2 separate regions of the Homo sapiens genome follow, and region 2 is linked to region 1. The links come from fine-mapping of genetic effects on gene expression. Tissue or cell type: Th2 cells. Region 1 holds a variant in brackets; the other region holds the start of a gene. All regions are shown on one strand. Distances are between the middles of the regions.

The links. PIP is the estimated chance that this variant, and not a neighbour inherited with it, causes the effect.
Region 2: it holds the start of PPIL3, and the variant in region 1 is fine-mapped to the expression of PPIL3 in Th2 cells (Schmiedel 2018, PIP 0.90).

What each region holds. Positions count from the first base shown.
Region 1 is chr2:200,840,332-200,843,092 of GRCh38, reverse strand. No RefSeq gene overlaps it. Among named protein-coding and RNA genes, the nearest start is that of CLK1, 23 kb to the left of the region's middle. The variant C/T (reference allele first, on the strand shown) is at 1,431.
Region 2 is chr2:200,887,997-200,890,496 of GRCh38, reverse strand. PPIL3 (peptidylprolyl isomerase like 3) reads left to right here and starts at 1,420. Exons shown (of 7, transcript NM_130906.3): 1 at 1,420-1,541. It overlaps NIF3L1 (NGG1 interacting factor 3 like 1), which reads right to left and starts at 1,126. Exons shown (of 7, transcript NM_001369441.2): 1 at 845-1,126. RefSeq lists enhancers at 343-592, 851-1,595, 1,483-1,732, 585-1,784, 1,853-1,902 and 1 more.

The DNA of each region.
Region 1 (2,761 bases):
AAATTCATAAATAAAGCCATTGGGTCCTGGGCTTTTCTTTGTTAGGAGACTCTTTTATTATGGCTTTGATCTCATTACTTGTTATTGGTCTGTTCAGATTTTGTATTTCTTCATGGTTCAGTCTTGGTAGGTTGGATGTGTCTAGAAATTTATCCATTTCTTCTAGGTTTTCCAATTTACTGGCATGTAGCTGCTCACGGTAGCCCCTAATCATCCTTTGAATTTCTGCACTATTAATTCTAATTTCTCCTTTTTCATCTCTGATTTTATTTATTTGGATTTTCCTTCTTTTTTCTTAGTCTGGCTAAAGGTTTGTCAATTTTTTTTAACTTTCCCAAACAACTTTTTGTTTCATTGATCTTTGGTATTGTTTTCTTCATTTCAATTTCATTTCTTTCTGCTCTGATCTTTATTATTTTTTTCCTTCTACTAATTTTGGGTTTGGTTTGGTCTTGCTTTTCTAATCTTTGTTTGTTTGTTTGTTTGTTTGTTTGACAGTCTATCACCCAGGCTGGAGTGCAGTAGCACCATCTTGGCTCACTGCAACCTCCCCTTCCTGGGCTCAAGTGATCCTCTCACCTCAGCCTCCCAAGGAGCTGAGACAAAAGGCATGTGCCACCACGCCGGGCTCATATTTGTAGTTTTTGTAGAGATGGGGTTTCACCAAGTTGGCCAGGCTGGTCTCAAACTACTGGCCTCAAGTGATCTGCCCGTGTCGGCCTCGCAAAGTGCTGGGATTACAGGCATGAACCACTGCGCCTAATTCTTTTTTTCTTTTTTTTTCTCTGAGACAGAGTCTCGCTCTGTCGCCCAGGCTGGAGTGCAGTGGCTCAATCTCGGCTCACTGCAAGCTCTGCCTCTTGGGTTCACGCCATTCTCCTGCCTCAGCCTCCTGAGTAGATGGCACTACAGGCGCCCGCCACCACGCCCAGCTAATTTTTTTGTATTTTTAGTGGAGACGGGGTTTCACTGTTTTAGCCGGGATGGTCTCGATCTCCTGACCTCGTGATCCGCCCGCCTCGGCCTCCCAAAGTGCTGGGATTACAGGCGTGAGCCACCGCGCCCGGCCCACTGCACCTAATTCTTTAAGATGTATCATAATTTGAAGTTTCTCTTCTTCTTCTTCTTGGTTTTTTTTTTTTTGAGCTGGAGTCTCAATCACTCTATTGCCTAGGCTGGAGTGCAATGCCACGATCTCAGCTCACTGCAACCTCTACCTCCTGGGTTCAAGTGATTCTCCTGCCTTCCTGCCTCAGCCTCTGGAGTAGTTGGGATTACAGGCGCACTCCATTATGCCAAGCTAATTTTTGTATTTTATAAGTTGAGATGGGGTTTCACCATGTTGGCCAGGCTGGTCTCAAACTCCTGACCTCAAGTAATCCGCCCACCTTGGCTTCCTAAAGTGCTGGGATTACAGGCATGAGCTGCTG[C/T]GCCTGACCTTTTTCTTTCTTTTTTTGAGACAGAGTCTCGCTCTGTTGTCCAGGCTGGAGTGCAGTGGCACAATCTTGGCTCACTGTGACCTCCGCCTCTTGGGTTCAAGCAGTCTGCCTTGGCCTCCCGAGTAGCTGGGATTATGGACGCCCACCACCATGCACAGCTAATTTTTGTATTTTTAGTAGAAATGGGGTTTCACCATCTTGGCCAGGCTGGTCTCAAACTCCTGATCTCAAATGCTCTGCCCGCCTCGGCCTCCCAAAGTGCTGGGATTACAGATGTGAGCCACCACACCCAGCCAATTTCTCTTGTTTTGATTTCTAGTTTTATTCCATTGTGATCACAGAAAATACATGATATCATTTCAATTTTTTCCATTTTTTTTTCTCGCTTTTTTTCACTTTTTTGTTTTCTTTTTACCTTTTTCTTTTTTTTTTTTTTTTTTTTGAGATGGAGTCTCGCTCTGTCCTGCAGGCTGGAGTGCAATGGTGCGATATTGGCTCACTGCAACCTCCGCCTCCCAGGTTCTAGTGATTCTTCTGCCTCAGCCTCTGAAGTAGCTGGGATTATAGGCGCCCACCATCACGTCCAGCTAATTTTTTTTTTTTTTTCAGGTCGGGTCTCGCTCTGTCACCAGGCTGGAGTACAGTGGCACGATCTTGGCTCACTGCAACCTCCGACTCCCTGGTTCAAACGATTCTCCTGCCTCAGCCTCCTGAGCAGCTGGGATTACAGGCATGTGCCAGCACACCCAGCTAATTTTTGTATTTTTAGTAGAGATGGGGTTTCACCATGTTGGCCAGGATGGTCTTGATCTCCTGACCTTGTGATCTGCCCACCTCGGCCTCCCAAAGTGCTGGGATTACAGGCGTGAGCCACCGCGCCCAGCCTAATTTTTGTGTTTTTAGTAGAGATGGGAGTTTCACCATGTTGGTCAGGCTGGTCTCAAACTCCTGACCTCAGTTGATCTACCCGCCTCAGCCTCCCAAAGTGCTGGGATTACAGGCATGAGCCACTGTGCCTGGCTTTTTAAACCATTTTTTAAGATCCTGCTTGTGCTCTATTCTGTATCTATTAACTTTTTTCCACTCATGTATATACCAATTTTTGAATGTTTTAAGACTTGTTTTTTTTTTTTGAGACTTTTTTAAGACTTCTTTTGTTTTTTTGAGGAATCTTGCTCTGTCACCCAGGCTGGAGTGCAGTGGCGCAATCTCGGCTCACTGCAAGCTCCGCCTCCCGGGTTCACGCCATTCTCCTGCCTCAGCCTCCCAAGTAGCTGGGACTACAGGCACCCGCCACCACGCCCGGCTAATTTTTTTGTATT
Region 2 (2,500 bases), 48 kb before region 1:
GTCAATTATTCCAAAAGCAATTTTTCAACATTTCTATTTAATGAGATGAAGATGCTTGTTTAACACATTATTTGAAGTGATACAGGGTCTCCAAAAACCACTCGAGGTCTTGGAAGTTTGTTTTTGTTTTTTTCTTTTTGACACAGGGTTTCACTAGGCGCCTAGGCTGGAGTGCAGTGGCGTGATCTCAGCTCACTGCAGCCTCGACTTCCTGAGCTCAAGCAGATCCTCCCACCTCAGCCTCCTGAGCAGCTGGGACTACAGGCGCTAAACACCACACCTGGCTAATTTTTGTATTTTTAGTAGAGATGGGGATTCGCCATGTTGCCCAGGCTGGTCTCAAACTCCTGCGCTCAAGTGATCCACCTGCCTCGGCCTCCAAGAGTACCGGGATTACAGGGGTGAGCCACTGCGTCCGGCCTTGAAAGATCTTCTAATGGTCCTCATAGTACTCCATTCTCCAGCATTTTCTACATCTGGCAAGCTCGAAAGTGAAACCCTAGTGGGCCATCATGCAGGTTTTGAGTTATTTACTGTTACAGATGAGGAAACTGCGAAGCTACATGGCCACAGTCAACAACGACAACAGAAGGCAACATAGTATGGCGGTTAAGAGCACCGACTCTGAAGCCAGCCTGAATCCTAGAGCCAGAGCTGTGCAACAGCAGGTAAATGACTTATCCTGTGCAGTTTCCTCCTTAATGGAAATAGTGCCCAGGCCACAATATCGCGAGATTTACACGTAAAGCTGGAAACAACTCCCGTCCTAGAGTAAGCACTGTTTACTATTAAGCAGCATCAGTAGGGCCCCTTTGCAACCTGCAAACCGCTCCCTCGACGTTACCTCATCTATGCCTCATTTCAGTGCCACTTCAGGCCTTTTCCAGGACAGTGAAAAACCACGAGACACAGCCAGTTAAGTCTGAGTCAGGACCCCTGTCCCACTAGTGCGCTGTGCTCTGGTGCGGCAGGGCAGTTTTCTGACCCAATCTCCTCTTCTGCTGTCCTCTGCAGCACCAAGATAACAATCACAGCCGGCCCCAACCGGCACCTACCGCGAAGGTCACAACTACACTCGCGGGTTTTTAAATCGCCCACTACTCACCAGTCCCGGAAACTTCTCTGCGTCACTTCCGGTCCCGCGTCGGCGCTCCGGATGCTGTGGCACTTGGCTCCCCGTAGCGGGAGAGCTGGGCGGAAGTGGTCCTTTCCGTTTGGCAGCCGAGTGTAAAGCATTGCTTGAGGTTGCCCAGGTAGTTTCGCCTTACACTTCTTGTCCCAGTGCAATTATTAGTAGAGCTCCCTTTCACTGTCAAATTTCCGGTTGGGGATAAATTGCATTGTCGTTTTGGTTTGAGATAGGAAGATGAGGGGAGGAAGGAGGTGAGGCGGTAAGGGGCGTTCTCTCTCTTGGGTCCCGCGCCCAACTTCCGCTGGCCCAAAGAAACTATAATTTTGAACCAACAGACCTCTGCTGGCATCTGCGATTGCATTTTTCCTGTTTTAACAACGGCTGTGCTAGACGAAGTGGTGAAGCCCAAGTATGGAGTAACGTCATTAATTCTTTCATTCACTTATTCGAATGCTTGCTGAGTTCTGTGTTGCTACTGGTTTAGTTCTTGGGATACTGCGAGTGAACAGTGGGCGGCGAGGCTGTTGTTGCAACGTCAGAGTAAAAGAAGGACCCTGCACGGCGGCCTCCCAGCACTTCGGGAGGCCGAGGCGGGCGGATCACCTGAAGTCAGGAGTTCGAGACCAGCCTGGCCAACACGGCGAAACCCCGTCTCTACTAAAAATACAAAAATTAGTCGTGCATGGTAGCGCGCGCCTGTAGTCCCACCTACTCGGGAGGCTGAGACACGACAATCACTTGAACCCGGGAGGCGGAGGCGGAGGTTGCAGTGAGCCGAGATCCTGCCGCACTGCACTCCAGCCTGGCGACATAGCGAGACTCCGTCTCAAAATGAAAAAAAAAGAGAAGTTCATAGTATATTAGTGATAAGTGCTGTGGTGGAAAAAAAAAAGTTCATAGTATATTAGTATAAGTGCTGTGGTGAAAAAAAAAAAAAGCGAATTTCATAGTATATTAGTGATAAGTGCTGTGGGAGAAGGAAATAGGAATGTCCTAGGGCTGAAGGGCTAAAGCAGTTCTGTGTAGGATTGTCAGGTCAGTTAAACTTGACATTTAAGCAGAAATTTGGAGGTGAGGAAATTAGCCGTAGAGATGTCTGAGTATAAGAATTCCAGGCAAAAGGGACACCCAATGCCTGGACCCTAAGGGAAGGTATCTGGGTTATTGGGGGACTTGCAAGGAGGCTCTTGAAGAAGAGCAAGCCGGGCAAGTAGGAGATTGGGAGGCTTGAATCGGGTAGGATATCTTCTATAGCCGGGTTTTTATTACCTAGGGGATGCCATTAGAGGATTTTTTTTTTTTTTTTTTTTGACGGAGTCTCGCGCTGTCACCCAGGCTGGAGTGCAGTGGCGCGATCTCAGCTCACTG